Linked DNA regions of Homo sapiens: region 1 is linked to region 2. The links come from fine-mapping of genetic effects on gene expression. A gene starts in region 2. The other region holds a variant in brackets. All regions are shown on one strand. Distances are between the middles of the regions.

Region 1 (8,326 bases), 62 kb before region 2:
ATGCACCCCAGGCTCCACCTGGGCCAGGCCCGCATCTGCTGCCCAGCAACGAGTGCGTGGAGCTCTTCAGAACCGCCTACTTCTGCAGAGGTGAGGCTGTTCTCTCTGGGCACATGAGCTTCCACCCCCTACCTCTTAGTACCCCCTGGGCCCAACTTGTTGGGTCCTGCTACCTCCCTATCTGCCAGCAGATCCTCCATGTAGCCTATGCATGGCACTCCTGCGCTTGTGTGTTGCATATCCTGTGTGGCCATATGCCCAGCCTGGCAGCTACCTGGCAGCTCTCCTCCAGCCAAGACAATGGAAGAGGTGGTTCAGGTAGAGCCCAGCACAAGAGTGTCATATCTTGGAGAACACCATCACACTGAAGCATGCAGTCACTATGTGAAGGTGCACAGAAGAATTGGCACAGAGATTTTGAGCCTCATGGCCTTCTCCTACGTACACACATTTGGGAGAGCTGGCACACATCACACACACTGGCCCTGGCTGCACCGTCTTTACCACACTCCAGGCATGCCTTAGGGTTGCGCTTCTCTCCCATCCAATTCCAGCTCCTACTCAATTCTAAACCTGACCTTAAGAGTGGGACCAGGTGTACAGGGGGTGCAGAGTGTGGGTGTTCCCAGGGCCATGGGTGCCCTAGCACTGGGAGGATGTGAGCAAGTAGCAAAGGTCTGGGCACATCTGAGTTAGCAGCCAGGGCTGCTACCTGGGAGGACTCTAAACTCTCCCAGCAGAGAGCTTGTCGGGCTGTGCTGTGATCTGCTACTTCTAAGCACTTATATGAGGCAGGGGCACCCTTTCCTATTTGCACATGGGTGAGTAGCACTTAGTTCCAAGTACTTCTGACCTTGCAGCTCCTGCTCTGGCAAGACCCCCTCCTACCTCTCTCCATCATGGGTTCCTCACTATTGCCTCCCTGCCTGTGGCCCTCTCTCTTCTTTTTGTTCTTCGAACCCTTGACCCTTTCTCTTTCAGACTTGGTCAGGTACTTTCAGGGCCTGGGCCCCCCACCGAAGTTCCAGGTAACACTGAATTTCTGGGAAGAGAGCCATGGCTCCAGCCATACTCCACAGAATCTTATCACAGTGAAGGTGAGCTCGGAGCAGGGGTAGAGTACCCATCTAATGAGAGCAGAGACAGTGGTGCTCCAGGAGGCAAAGGGGGTCTCCCAGTGGGGAAGGAGCTCCTGGGGGTGGTGTCTGTCCCTGATGCACGCACTGAGATGCTCTTCTCCATCTCTTCCAATACAGATGGAGCAGGCCTTTGCCCGATACTTGCTGGAGCAGACTCCAGAGCAGCAGGCAGCCATTCTGTCCCTGGTGTAGAGCCTGGGGGACCCATCTTCCACCTCACCTCTTTGTTCTTCCTGTCTCCTTTGAAGTAGACTCATTCTTCACACGATTGACCTGTCCTCTTTGTGATAATTCTCAGTAGTTGTCCGTGATAATCGTGTCCTGAAAATCCTCGCACACACTGGCTGGTGGAGAACTCAAGGCTAATTTTTTATCCTTTTTTTTTTTTAATTTTGAGATATACGCCCTCTTTCATCTGTAAGGGACTAGGAAATTCCAAATGGTGTGAACCCAGGGGGCCTTTCCCTCTTCCCTGACCTCCCAACTCTAAAGCCAAGCACTTTATATTTTCCTCTTAGATATTCACTAAGGACTTAAAATAAAATTTTATTGAAAGAGGAATCAGTATCTGATTTTCTGGGAGAAGAAGGTAGCAGTGGTCACAGATAGAGATGTAAACTTAAGAGTGGGGCACTGGGGTTCTCTTCCTGCTGACATCTCCAGCCTCTTTCCTCTCCTCTGCCCACAGGTTCTGGCTAAGATGCTGCCTGGGCCCTGTGGGTCCTGGGCCTGGCACTCTACAGAGGTACCCTCTGGGCAGATAAGATTAGGGTGTGGGTTGGGCACCAAGCCTTCAGCCAGGCACTATAGCCACCAACTTCACATGGTAAAGTCTGGGCTCCACAGTTCTTGCTAGAAGGCCCCAACATCGGGCCTGAGGTTAGTTAGATTGGAGGTCTAAATGAAGAGGAGACACTTGAGGGTGACCTGAAACTATGGTCTAGAGGCCCTGGGACCTGAGAACAGAGGAGTCAGAGAGAAGAGTTGCTGAAACTGTACCTGCTGTTACTGGCACCTCTTCCTCCAGCACAATTTCACTGTCACCCCAGCAGGGTACTCCCAAACTGGATTCCTTGCTCTATCTAAGCCCCATAAAAGACACTCTGGCCGGCTGGGCGCAGTGGCTCACACCTATAATCCCAGCACTTTGGGAGGCCAAGGTGGGTGGATCACTTGAGATCAGGAGTTCGAGACCAGCCTGGCCAACACGGTGAAACAGCGTCTCTTCTAAAAATACAAAAATTAGCCAGGCCTGGTGGCGGGCACCTGTAATCTCAGCTACTTGGGAGGCTGAGGCAGGAGAATCGCTTGAACCCGGGAGGCGGAGGTTGCAGTGAGCCAAGATCGTGCTATTGTACTCCAGCCTGGGCAACAAGAGCGAGACTCTGTCTCAAGATTAAAAAAGAAAAAAAAAAAAAGCACTCCGGCCTAGACTGCCATGTCATGCTGTTCATGAGACTTGAGGGCTCCAAATTGGCTGACACTCTTCTTTCCCCCATGTTCATTTTACTACGAAACTGGAAGTTTTTCCTTCACCACAAGGCCACTTGTCACCTACTTTTTTGTACACTCACTTCCAGCAAACTAGTTCCAACCCAGGCCACAGCCTTCAGCTTCCTTCTTCCTGCATATGACACCAGCTTAGCTTTCCAGACTTCCTTCTGTCATTTCACCCTTCAGCCCTCAATGGTTCACACACATGATCAAATCTGGATGCCTAAGTCTTCCTAGGACCTTCTTGCTGCCTCATTTGACAAGCTTCAGTGCTGCCTTTGAGCCTCCCTGCCTCCATGGACCTCCCTTCTTCCCTTCAGTCTTGTCCATCATCCCACTGGGAAGCCAAGCACCTAGACATTCTCTGCACTAGCAGTGAAGAAATGAGGTACTGAATGCAGAGGTGTACAAACCCTGTTGTGCCCTCAATGTGATGCAATGTGATGAAATCCTTCCTGGACCTTCTTTGTACAAGGTCTAAATTATCTCCTTGACTTCCATTTTATTTTAATTATTTTGATTAAAAACAAAAACTTGGCTGGGCATTGTGGCTCACACCTGGAATCCCAGTAATTTGAGAGGCCGAGGTGGGTGGATCACCTGACGTCAGGAGTTCGAGACCAGCCTGGCCAACATGGTGAAACCCCGTCTCTACTAAAAATGCAAAAAATTAGCCAGGCGTGTTGGTGGACACCTGTAATCCCAGCTACTTGGGAGCCTGAGGCAGGAGAATCGCTTAAACCCAGGAGGCGGAGGTTGCAGTGAGCCGAGATTGCACCACTGCACTCGAGCCTGGGCAAAAAGAGCAAAACTCCATCTCAAAAAAAAAAAATTTTTTTTTTCGGCTGGGCGTGGTGGTTTATGTCTGTAATCCTGGCACTTTGGGAGATCGAAGTGAGAAGACTGCCTTAGCCCAGGAGTTTGAGACTAGCCTGGGTGACATAGTGAAACCCTACTTCTACAAAAAATTCTTTTTTTTTTTTTTGAGACAGAGTCTCACTCTGTTGCCCAGGCTGGAGTGCAGTAGTGCAATCTTGGCTCACTGCAACCTCCACCTCCTGGGTTCAAGTGATCCTCCTGCCTCAGCCTTCTGAGTATCTGGGATTACAGGTGCGCACCGCTATGCCAGGCTAATTTTTGTATTTTTAGTAGAGACAGGGTTTCACCATGTTGGCTAGGCTGGTCTCGAACTCCTGACTTCAGGTGATCTGCCCACCTCAGCTTCCCAAAGTGCTGGGATTACAGGCGTGAGCCACTGCACCTGGCTCCCAAAAATTCTTAAAAATTAGCCAGGTGAGGCCAGGCATGGTGGCTCACACCTGTAATCCTTGCACTTTGGAAGGCCCAGGTGGGTGGATCACTTGAGGTCAGAAGTTCGAGACCAGCCTGACCAACATGGTGAAACCCCATCTCTACTAAAAATATAAAAAAAATCAGCTGGGCATGGTGGCACATGCCTATAATCCCAGCTACTTGGGAGGCTGAGGCAGGAGAATCACTTGAACCCAGGAGGCAGAGGTTGCAGTGAGCCAAGATCGTGCCATTGCATTCCAAGCCTGGGCATCAAGAGCGAAACTCCATCTCAAAAAAAAAAAGTGGGGGAAAAAAAAAAGCCAGGTGTGGTGGTGTGTGCCTATAGTCCCAACTACTTGACCTCCTAAAGTGCTGGGATTACAGGTGTGAGCTACTATACCTGGCCTCCTTCCGTTTTCTATCATACCCCACATCCAATTCATCAGCAAATCCTGTCGCTCGCTATTCCTTCAATATGTATCCAGGGTCTGACCACTTCTCTCTGTTCCCATCAGCAACACTTTGGAACAAACTACCACCATCTCTCATGTCTC[C/T]TCCTCTGCTTCCTTCACATCTGTTTCCACACGTGTCTACCTTAAGCTATTCTCAACACAGTAGAGATTCTTTTCACATGTAATTCTGATCATGTCACTCCTCTGCTCAGAACCTTCCAGTGGGTCCCAAATCACCCAGGGTAAAAGCCCAAATCCCCATAAGGACCTCTGAGGTCCTGTGATGCGACCCTACCCTCCTCTCTCTCTCTCTCTCGCCCCTTGCCATTCTTCCCCTGTCACTTTGCTCCAGGCTCCTTGAACCCACCAAACACATTTCTACCTCAGGGTCTTTGCATTTGCTGGTTCTTTTGTCTAAATTACTCTTCCTTCAGGTAGGCACATGACTTACCCACATTCTTCAAATTTTATCTCTTAAGAGAGGGGGCAAGGCTTCCCTGAGTACCCTCCCTAAATAGCAGCCGTCATTATTCTATCCTCCTATGCTGCCTCATTTTCTTCATAGCACTTACGGCCACTTCATGTATTTCTTTTTTTCTTTCTTTCTTTTTTTTTTTTTTTTTGACAGAATCGCCCATGCTGGAGCACAGCAGTGCAATCATGGCTCACTGCAGCCTCGACCTTCGGCTCAATCGATCCTCCTGTCTCAGCCTTCTGAGTAGCTGTGACTATAGGCATGTAATTTGAGAGGCCGAGGCGGGTGTCACCTGAGGTCAGGAGTTTGAGACCAGCCTGGCCAACATGGTTGAAACCCTGTCTCTACTAAAAATACAAAAAAATTAGCCAGGCATAGTGGCACATGCCTGTAGTCCCAGCTACTCAGGAGGCTTAGGTAGGAGAATTGCTTGAACCCAGGAGGCGGAGGTTGCACTGAGCCAAGATGGTCCATTGCACTCCAGCCTGGGCGACAAGCAAAATTCCATCTCAGAAAAAAAAAAAAAAAAAAAAAAAAAAAACTCTCAAATTGAAGGGGACTGTAAGAAGATAGGGTCAGCTCAGCTGCAGTAAGATATAAGTCTCAGGAAGAAGCATGCTCTGGAGTCAAGGCAGAGAAGGACATTCTAGGCCAAAGAAATGGCTGTGCAAAGGTAGGAGGCATAGGGACAAGGGTTATTATTACAACTGTACCTCTTAAATTTACACAATAATTGTTGAGAATATGGCTTTTCCAGGCTAGGAAGTTGTGCTGCATCCAAAAATGCTAAAGTCTATTTCAGCCGGGAGAACACTGACAGCTGGGAAAGGACCACACGTGGCGTGCCCATAACCTAAGTTGTTCAGATTTAGGAAGTGACCCCAGTAAGTCCTTTCGGAGTTTCGTGTAAGATTGACTTCTTCAGCTGGGGGCAGTGGCTCACGCCTGTAATCCCAGCACTTTGGGAGGCCAAGGCGGGCGGATCACCTGAGGTCAGGAGTTCGAGACCAGCCTGGCCAACATGGTGAAACCCCTGTCTCTACTAAAAAATACAAAATTTAGCCAGGTGTGGTGGTGGGCGCCTGTAATCCCAGCTACTCGGGAGCCTGAGGCAGGAGAATCCCCTGCACCGGGGAGGCGGAGGCTGCAATGAGCTGAGACTGCGCCACTGCACTCCAGCCTGGGTGACAGAGTGAAACTCCATCTCAAAAAAAAAAGAAACCAGCCTGGCCAACATAGTGAAATCCCGTCTCTTCTAAAAATGCAAAAATTAGTTGGGTGTGATGGAGGGCGCCTGTAATCCCAGCTACTCAGGAGGCCAAGACACGAGAATCGCTTGAACCTGAGGGGATGGGGGGCAGAGGATGCAGTGAGCCGAGATTGCCGAGATAGCGCCACTGCATTCCAGCCTGGGCAACAGTGAGAGCCTCCATCTCAAAAAAAAAAAAAAAAAATGGACTTCTTCCTCATTGACCTGTGGTGGCTCCAAGGCCATCAAAAAAAAAAAAAATGGACTTCTTCCTCATTGACCTGTGGTGGCTCCAAGGCCATCATCTCACAGCCTTTTTTTTTTTTTTTTTTTTTGAGACGGAGTCTTGCTCCCTTGCCCAGGTTGGAGTGGAGCTGCATGATCTCGGCTCACTGCAACCTCCGCCTCCCAGGTTCAAGCATTCTCCTGCCTCAGCCTCCTGAGTAGCTGGGATTACAGGCGCGTGCCACCACGCCCAGCTAACTTTTGCATTTTTAATAGAGACGGGGTTTCACCATATTGGTCAGGCTGGACTCGAACTCCTAACCTCATGATCCGCCCGCCTCGGCCTCCCAAAGTGCTAGGATTACAGGCGTGAGCCACTGCGCCCGGCCTCATCTCACATCTTTCTTCCTCTGCAGCACACGACACGCCCTAGTTGGAAACAAAGTCGGAGTTTGTGGATTGGGGGAAGGGCGGGGTCTAACCTCAGGTCAGGCGCCGTGCAAGGTACATCTTGGCACCCGGAAGAGGCCCAGTACAGTTGCCCCCGAGGTGACCCGACCTCCCCTACCAATTGAGGCGCCCTTGTTGCCAGGCTTGCGGCGGGGGAGCGGCGGGGGAGCGACGGGGATGCGCTCATTGGTCAAGGAAGGGGCGCCTGTTACTAGAGGCGAGAACCGGAGCCCATTGGTCGGAACACCTCACAATGGACCCCAGCGGCGCGCAAAATCCTTATGATTGGTTTGCTGGCTGCCTCGGGAGACCCTGTTGCCAGGATACTTGGCGTTCCCGACCCGACCCCCGTTCCCCATTGGCTGTCAGGGCAAAAGCCGCCATCTAATGAGGAGCGAGGTGCGGTGCCCCGAAGCGCTCGCTTCCCGCGGTGCGATCTAGTCCTGCAGTAGGCGGCCCGGGGCCACACCGCGGCCGCCCAAGCCAGTGCAAGGCCCAGGGGCCTGACATCGCTCCCAGCGCTCGAGGACCGAGGCCTGCTGTGGAGGACACCGTGCTCCCTCGGGACCTGCTCTGGATTCCGGCCCGGACGTCCCCTTGGAGCTCTGCATCTCCAACCTGGAACCCAACCCAGAAGTCTCAAGTTTGACGCATCACGTGGCGTGCGGATCCACTGAGGGTCCACAGAGAGGGGCGCCCATCTCCTGCGTCTCAGTTATCCTGGTAATTGTGTATCTGCCCATTGTTCGTTGCCTCATTAACTTGGCTTTCTAGGTGCACCCACCTTGCCACCAGAGAAGTCCAAATCCTGACTTCTCTCCAAGGTGTTGGGAATTCTGTGCCCTAAAGAATTCCGACTCAGATCCGAACGGGGATCTGGTGGAATCGAGGGTGAAAGACCAGAGGGACAATGTTCTACTATCCCAACGTGCTTCAGCGCCACACCGGCTGCTTTGCCACCATCTGGTAAGGGCGGGGCCCGTTGGCGCGCGATGGCGGACGCTGCCCGGGATCCCAGCCTGACAGCTCCCCCTCCATCCCCATTCTCCCACCTTCCCCACCCACTTCAGGCTGGCGGCGACTCGCGGCAGCCGGTTGGTGAAGCGCGAATACCTGAGGGTGAATGTGGTGAAAACCTGGTAAGGCCCAGAAAAGGGAAGGAGGGCCTGGTGCGGGGGGTGAGTTAGGGGATGGGGTGGCCAAGACTGTGGGCCCACTCCTGGACGCAGCGGTAATCAGGGCGCATTGTTCCCCAGCGAGGAAATCCTCAATTACGTGCTGGTACGAGTGCAACCCCCGCAGCCCGGCCTGCCGCGGCCCCGCTTCTCCCTCTATCTCTCAGCCCAACTTCAGATCGGTGTGATCCGCGTCTATTCTCAACAATGCCAGTACCTCGTGGGTAAGGCTGGGAACCCTCAAAGGTGGGGCGGGCTGAGCAGCTGTCTGCTAAGCTGGCTGTCTACCTCGTCCTCCCTGCCCACAGAGGACATCCAGCACATCTTGGAGCGCCTCCACCGTGCCCAGCTGCAGATCCGAATAGATATGGAGA
Region 2 (8,292 bases):
CCCTTAAGAACTGTGCATTTTACTGTATGTTAAAAAACATGAATGAGAAAACTGATTCACACAGTAAAGACAGTTGCCAAAGTAATCTGCAATGAGGAAATCAATGAAGGATCTGGGGTTAGGGAGTAATATAATGAAAAAGAAGCTAAAGGAAGACCTGCACATTATGGTTTTGTACGTCATGTCTTGGTTTAGACTACACTTTAGAGGGGATATGACGGTAGGAAAACCTGGTTGGATGTATTACAGAGACATAAACATATAAATGAGTAAGACCCGAGACCAGAATGAGGGTAATGGAGATGGAAACAAAAATCAAACAGAAAGAGCTTTTAAGTGAAAAATTAGATCTTATAAAAGGACCACGTAATTTTAAATGACTCTAAAGAATTGTATTCCAGACACCTGAATGATTGATGGGATTAATACACGAGATGGGTATTGGGATATGGCTTATGACAGAAGATGATGCATTTAATTTTAGAACCATAGAGACAAGGTAACAAGATTTAAATCAGGAAGAATTTAATTGTAAAATCTTATAGAAAAATATGGAAGAAGTCAGCTACACAGAGACAGCAGTTGAAAATGAATCATTCGGCTGGGCATGGTGGCTCACGCCTGTAATCCCAGCACTTCGGGAGGCCAAGGCAGGTGGATCACTTGAGCTCAGGAGTTCAAGACCAGCCTGGGCAACATGGTGAAACCCCACCTCTACTAAAAATACAGAAAATCAGCCAGGTGTGGTGGCATGTACCTGTAGTCCCAGCTACTTGGGAGGCTGAGTTGGGAGGATCCCTTGAGCCTGGGAGGTGGAGGTTGCAGTGAGCCGAGATCATACCACTGCACTCCAGCCTGGGTGACAGAGTAAGAATGTCTCAAAACAAAAACAAAATGAGGCCAGGCGCGGTGGCTCATGCCTGTAATCCCAGCACTTTGGGAGGCTGAGGTGGGTGGATCACCTCAGGTCAGGCGTTCAAGACCAGCCTGGCAAACATGGCGAAACCCCGTCTCTACTAAAATACAAAAGTTAGCCGGGTATGGTGGTGGGCACTTGTAGTCCCAGCTACTTGGGAGGCTGAGGCAGGAGCATCGCTTGAACCCAAGAGGCGGAGGTTGCAATGAGCCAAGATCGTGCCACTGTACTCCAGCCTGGGCGACAGAGTGAGACTCCATCTCAAAAGCAAAACAAAACAAAAATAATAATAATTCAAAAAGGGGTCAGATATGGTAGCTCACGGCTGTAATCCCAGCACTTTAGGAAGATGAGGTGGGAAGATCACTTGACCCCAGAAGTTTTAGACTAGCGTGGGCAACACGATGAGACCGCATCTCTACAAAAAAATAAAACAATTGGCTGGGTATGGTGGTAGCACACGCCTGTAGTCCCAGCTACTCAGGAGGCTCAGATGGGAGAATTGCTTGGGCCTGAGAGGTCGAGGCTGCAGTAAGCTGTGATGGCACCACTGCACCCTAAGCCTGGGCGACAGAGTGAGAACCTGTCTCAAAAAAAAAAAAAAAAAAAAAAAGGAACTGTAATAAAAAATGTCACTTATATGGTAATTAACAGCTCTTTTTTTTCTTTTTTAAATTAATATTTTCTTCAGATCAGATTAACAGCTATCTCATGTGTAACTACTTTCCTATGTATTTAATTAAGAAATGCAACAAACAAGAGGGGATGGGGCGAGAGGGGGAGATAGAGAGAGATGGGGCACAGAGGCCTGTTTGAAGGCAGAAGGGTGTTGCAGGAAAGAAGACTGGCAATTTTAGAGAAGTACCACATAAATATGGATTCAAAGAAACAGAAAAAATCTAGAATCTTGCTATTCAAAGTGTAGCTCTCAGACATTCAATATCACCTGGGAGTTTGTGAGAAATGCAGAAACCTGTGCCCCACCTTAGACCCACAGAATCATAATCAGCATTTTAGCAAGACCACAGGTGATAGGACACTGTATTTTCAAGTTTCCACACACAGCATTGATTTTTTTGTTCAAACAGTTATTTTATTTATTTATTTTTTGAGACAGTCTCACTCTGTTGCCCAGGCTGGAGTGCAATGGCACGATCTTGGCTCACTGCAACCTCTGCCTCCCAGGTTCAAGCAATTCTCCTGCCTCACCCTGTCAAGTGGCTGGGACTACAGGTGTGTGCCACCACACTCGGCTAATTTTTGTATTTTTAGTAGAGACGGGGTTTCACCATGTTGGCCAGGCTGGTCTTGAACTCCTGACCTCGTGATCCGCCCGCCTTGGCCTCCCAAAGTGCTGGGATTACAGGCGTGAGCCACCACGCCTGGCCTTTCAAACAGTACTTTTTAAACTGCAGGTCTCAACCCATCAGTGGGCAGGTCTCAACCCATCAGTGGGTTATGAAATCAACTTAGAATTGAAAGTCTGAGAGCATATCACAAATAGCAAAGTTTTTGTGCCTTATGGGTTGTGACATAAAATTTCTTAATGTGGAGTGAAATTTTCAAAAAGTGTACAAAACACTTAGCATTAGTAACTTAACTTCTTTGGACCTAGTGGACATGAGAACCCATATGCATTGAAAAGCCAACAGAAGTATTCAACAGGCCGGGCGCGGTGGCTCATGACTGTAATCTCAACACTTTAGGCGGAGGTGAGCGGATCACTAGGTCAAGAGATCGATACCATCCTGGCCAACCTGGTGAAACCCCGTTTCTACTAAAAATACAAAAATTAGCTGGGCGTGGTGGCACACCCTGTAGTCCCAGCTAGTCAGGAAGCTGAGGCAGGAGAATCGCTTGAACCCGGGAGGCGGAGGTTGCAGTGAGCCGACATTGCGCCACTGCACTCCAGCCTGGTGACAGAGGGAGACTCCGTCTCAAATAAAAATATTCAACAGTTAGTGTTTCTCAAGATTTTGACAGTGATCCATTCTAAAAATTAGTATGAACTAGTAACACCCCCTGTGTAATATACATATAAAATAAAATAAAAAATTTCAGGCCTGGCAACAGAGTGAGACTCTGTCTCAAAAAAAAAAAAAAAAAAAAAAAAAAAGGCCAGGCACGGGGGAGGGTGGCTCACACCTGTAATCCCAGCACTTTGGGAGGCAGAGGCGGGCGGATCACGAGGTCAGGAGATCGAGACCATCCTGGCTAACATGGTGAAACCCTGTCTCTACTAAAAATACAAAAAAATTAGCTGGGCGTGGTGGCAGGCGCCTGTAGTCCCAGCTACTCGGGAGGCTGAGGCAGGAGAATGGCATGAACCCGGGAGGCGAAGCTTGCAGTGAGCCGAGATGGCGCCACTGCACTCCAGCCTGGGCGACAGAGCGAGACTCTGTCTCAAAAAAAAAAAAAAAAAAAATCATAAAACAATATCCTTACCTAGCACTATATTATTTCCTATTTTCTCCCCCTCTCTCTTTCTTTTTTTTTTTTGCAGGGGGAGATGGAGTTTCACTCTTGTCGCCCAGGCTGGAGTGCAATGGCGCCATCTCAGCTCACTGCAATCTCCGCCTCCCAGGTTCAAGGGATTCTCCTGCCTTAGCCTCCGAGTAGCTGGGATTATAGGCGCCCACCACCACGCCCGGCTAGTTTTTGTATTGTTAGTAGAGGCGGGGTTTCACCATGTTGGCCAGGCTGGTCTTGAACTCCTCACCTTAGGTGATCCACCCACCTCGGCCTCCCAAAGTGCTGGGATTACAGGCGTGAGCCACTGGGCCCGGCCTTTTTTTTCAGGCAGGGTCTGGAGTGCAGTGGTGCCATCACTGCTCACCGCGGCTTCGACATCCCAGGATCAATCAATCCTCCCATCTCGGCCTCCCGAATAGCTGGGCCTACAGGCATGCGCCCAGACCCTTGGCTAATTTTTTGAATTTATTGTACAGGCAGGGTTTCGCCATGTTGCCCAGGATGGTCTCCAACTCCTGGGCTCAAGCGATCGGCCTGCCTCGGCCTTCCAAAGTGCTGGGATTACAGGCGTGAGCCACCGCGCCCAGCCTATTTTCTCTTTTTAATGGCGCCAGTGACCCATTCACCTATTAAATTGATGTTACGACTCTTATATAGGCCGCTACTCAACGTTAAAAAAAATCATCTTTAACATACTATTTTAATACTAGACCTCAAATCTTAGCTAAGAAGTAGTTTGGAAGGACTGGGGAAGAGAAGGTTAAGAATGACTATTATGTACGGTAAATATGCTAAGAAGCTGATGAAATAACGATAGATTTACTTAGCTACAAAAAGGCCAAACTAGCATTAGACTTCACTTGTCAGCAGTTTTGTTTTTTTGAGGGGGGCGTGGGGGGGGGGGTCTCTGTCTGTCTGAAGGCACAAAAGAGGAAACAGCAGATAGGACTAACGAGGGCTGGAAATTGGTGAAGAACCACCACGGGAGTTGAGAGATGCAGATGAAGGAAACCATGGCTAGTAGCAAGAACTAGGGCAGCGGTAACTAACCTGCCTCAGCCAAGGAAGTGAGGCTGGTCCAGGATGCCAGGCTCAGAAAGGCAGGTACTGACTGAACACACTCCCCGCTTTGGTTCCTGTAGGACGGGTGAGATACCACACCTTGGCAACCACCAGTAAAGGCTCATAGTCTAGCCCTTGGGAGGCCCCGATTTTAGGGCTGTGCTCGGAGGCGACCTACGTTAGGGACTGGGAGAAGCAGGTACCCTGGGAATGAAGAATGGAGAGCAGCGCTTACTCCAAGAATCTGAGAGACGGGGGAGTCAAGCCGCTGCTAGGCCTTCTCTATGACTGCGGGGGTTCGAATACAGTGAGACCCGACAAAAGCGACCCCATTCTGGGTGATAGCACAGTCCTGGCAAAAAAGCAGGCATGGCAAAATACCCCAGGGTCGTCAGGTGGGACCTGGGCCCCGCTCTCAAAGCCCTTCTGGGTCCCCCTATTTCCCACCACCCCTCGCGCGGAGCCCTGAGGCAGTCAGCGTCCTCCAGGCTAGGGAAAGGCGTGGTTTTCCTTCCCCACGTCTCCCGTAAGGCACTGCTGCCAGCCCAGTACTACTGCGTCTTGGCAAGGCTGGAGGTGCTCCCACCTTCACTTTAATTAGCATCTTCTTTCCAGTTTGGGGCTGCACACGGATAAATTGCTGCTCCTACCGCTCCGGTCGCCGCTGCCGCCCTCCAGCACTCTTGCCTGCAAGGGCCACTTCTACTTCCGGGTCACTGTCTGGCTCCACCCCCCCCCCCCCCCCCACTGGGTTCCGGAAAGGCTCAGGGTTGCTCCCGCGTTTCGGTTCAGTGACGTCGTAAATTGGAATGAGGCATCCAGTTTAGCAACAGCAGAGATGACGACTCTGCGATTCTGAGAGTCCCTGGCGAGCCCGGGCTAGCGAAAAGTGGGGGCAGAACGAACTACATCTCCCATCGTGCCAGGAGGCGGTCCCGCCCGTTTCCCCCTGGGAGTTGTAGTCTAACCCCCTCGGATCCAACAGCAACCTCAGTGCGTGAACTCTGTTATCCAGAAGGCCTCGCCCTGCCGCCGCCGAAGCTGGAATTCGTCGGCTAGTAGTTCTCGCCGGCAACTAGAGGAACCTGTTGGCGTGGCCCAGAAGGCTTAGCGGGATTGCACGAGGTTAGTTGCTAAGCAAGGTGGTCTTTGGTCAACTGCCGCCTGGACCAAGGCAACAGGAAGTGAGTACCTCTATTCCGGAAACTAGTTATGAACCCTCCCCGCCCCCCGTCGCCAACATTCCTTCGTTCCCCTAAATCAGCCTCTTGCCCCATTGCTCTTTGCAGGGGTAGAAGAAGGAAGTGTAGCGGGGTAAGGAATGCACCGTCAGGGTCTCTCACAACCCTTTCCCAGCTCTCCTCCCCAACAAACAGTACCTGGGATGGAGCCCTAGGGTAATCGCAGCCACGGGATGGGTCGAGGTGACAGGCTTCAGGGACCACACTTCGGCCTTTGCCCGACCTTCCACAACTTAAGCGAAGAGAGGCCACCAGCCGTAACAGGGCGTTAAAGCCCAGGGGAAGATTGGTCCTTATGACTTCCTGCCTTCCAGCCCTCAGATTCATCGCTACCCCGAGGCTAAGCGCCATGCCTCATATTGACAACGATGTGAAACTGGACTTCAAGGATGTCCTTTTGAGGCCCAAACGCAGTACCCTTAAGTCTCGAAGTGAGGTGAGCAAGCTTCTCTACTTGCTGTTTCTTGACCCCACGCTCCCGGTGGGCCACAACCAAGAAAGATGCCTGTCCTTGTCCTAATATGGTACGTTTTTTGGATTAATGAAATGGTCAATTTCCTGTTCATATCTGCAGGTGGATCTCACAAGATCCTTTTCATTTCGGAACTCAAAGCAGACATACTCTGGGGTTCCCATCATTGCTGCCAATATGGATACTGTGGGCACCTTTGAGATGGCCAAGGTTCTCTGTAAGGTAGGGCTTTCCTCATGCCCCATCCCTATTGGTGTCCAGTTAGCCCAGCTGACTGCAGAGGTGTTTGCATCCCCACCCCCATGCCCAGTCAGTTCTCTGGCAGTTAGCAGTCAGGATGCTCTGATTTACGGTTTTTTCCACTACTGAAGCCCTTTATCTGATAAGTTCAAAAGGCCATCTGAATTAGTGAGATTCAAAGCTAAGTTCTGCTCCGATATTTCTGATATATGAACAGAATTTTCCCTTTTGTCCTGTTTAGCAGTTTGTACACCTTGCCAACTTTTCCCACCACCCAGGTCACCCCCTCACAGTCACATGCATCCCTTCAGTTATGCGATTGTCCACATTAAGCATTCACTGTTTTAGTCCAGAAACTACAGTTTAAGCATTCAAAAATCCTAACTAGAAGATCCTAGGAGAAGCAGCTTATTAATTTTCTTTAATAAGAACAATTCATTAATAAAAGAATACTTCTGCCATTCTTTTTTTAATCTTCCTCTTCTTTAAGTCCTAGGTTCCTGGGAGTTTCTGGGATGTGCCCCAAATGGGATGTGTTTTTCTTATATACAAGTTGTTCACTTTGAAATGGAAGATGCTGCTCCTGTCAGTACTATTACCTGCCTCTATACTTGTTGCTGAGAAGGTAGAGAGTTATCTGGGCACTTTGAGAACATATGCACTCTGCTGGTTGATCCATGTAGCCCTGGTTGATGAATTCTGCTATTGTTTGTGGCTCCATTAGTCTTAAGGACTTCATATCCTTTTTCTATTTTTGATTGCTGTGTCTTTGTGGAATGTCTTGTCATTTCTTTAAGGTTGATAGTTATGCAGTTTTATTTTTACTTTATTTTTATTGCCATTCAGTAACTGCTTAGGAATCTTTCTGTTGCCCACTGTCCATCTGCCCTGACCAGTAGAGTTCAGAATTGGTGACTCTGACTGCAGAGTTAACAGGCGTGCTGTAATACATGAACCTTTTTGGGGACTGTCTTGATGCTTTATGTGGAGCCTGGCTTTCAGTATTGCTGACGAGAGGTAAAGAAATCAGGTTTTAGAGATAAGAGCCAAGTCTTACTGTAATAAAAAGGTTGGATGCAAGCAAACATCTTTTTCTAAGTTTGGTATGTAATCTGATGTGCTCATCATGCCACACTCTGCCAGTATATCTCCAACATCTGCTGACTTCCTATCCTATGGTGACTTTTCTTTGCTTATCAGTATGTTGATGATAGAGTTGTTGAGAAAGCAGAATTCAATACCAGCTTTAGCTAGATATTGTTGATCTCTGAGTACGTATGTAGAGCACTTGTTGCTAGCTAATACATGACTTCCTTGGGTTTCTTGTTAGTTGCAAGATTTGTGCTGTTTCAGCCAACTGCTGTCTCTTGTCTGTTTGCATGTAGACATGTAAGGCACAAACACCAGCATACACAATGGCCTTTGAATGCCTTCCTCAAAGTATTGGGATATTGTTTGCAATCTGTTGAGCTAGAGAATATGAGTTTGATGAGTCATTATGTCCTTGAACTTTATTAAAATGGACTGAATGAAACAGATTTTTTAGCTTGATCCATGTCCCCAACTAGGAAATTTGTCCTTTTTTCCACTAGAGATGGAGACAGGGTAGGGTAGCCCCTTATCAGCTCTTATCAACCTTAAGGCATTACCTTTGGTGAGCATCCAGATCTACTGAATTACTGCTGGTAAATGAACGAGAACATAACCAAAAATAGTTTAGTACTAGGTTACCTTAGGAGGAGGGGCTGAGTCAGTGCAGAGAAACACAGGCTCCATCCAGCTTCTTCATGGTTCTTTCATGTCTGCTGCCTGTCCCACTGCACCAGCAGCTTGTCACCTTTTAAGTCAGAAGCAGTGAATGTGCTGGCAGATGAAATCCAACCCAGATC

What was found. PIP is the estimated chance that this variant, and not a neighbour inherited with it, causes the effect.
Region 1: its variant is fine-mapped to the expression of NEDD8 in whole blood (INTERVAL, PIP 0.95).

The regions. Positions count from the first base shown.
Region 1 is chr14:24,164,866-24,173,191 of GRCh38, forward strand. IRF9 (interferon regulatory factor 9) reads left to right here. Exons shown (of 9, transcript NM_006084.5): 7 at 1-90; 8 at 982-1,097; 9 at 1,257-1,700. The coding sequence ends at 1,331. It overlaps REC8 (REC8 meiotic recombination protein), which reads left to right and starts at 7,215. Exons shown (of 19, transcript NM_001048205.2): 1 at 7,215-7,743; 2 at 7,848-7,916; 3 at 8,034-8,176; 4 at 8,261-8,326. The coding sequence starts at 7,688. RefSeq lists enhancers at 6,627-7,127, 7,196-7,445 and a silencer at 6,976-7,025. The variant C/T (reference allele first, on the strand shown) is at 4,481.
Region 2 is chr14:24,227,214-24,235,505 of GRCh38, forward strand. NEDD8 (NEDD8 ubiquitin like modifier) reads right to left here and starts at 5,154. Exons shown (of 4, transcript NM_006156.3): 1 at 5,037-5,154. The coding sequence starts at 5,054. It overlaps NEDD8-MDP1 (NEDD8-MDP1 readthrough), which reads right to left and starts at 5,154. Exons shown (of 7, transcript NM_001199823.3): 1 at 5,037-5,154. The coding sequence starts at 5,054. GMPR2 (guanosine monophosphate reductase 2) reads left to right here and starts at 5,716. Exons shown (of 10, transcript NM_001002002.3): 1 at 5,716-5,764; 2 at 6,006-6,127; 3 at 6,266-6,385. The coding sequence starts at 6,041. RefSeq lists enhancers at 5,018-5,883, 5,050-5,344.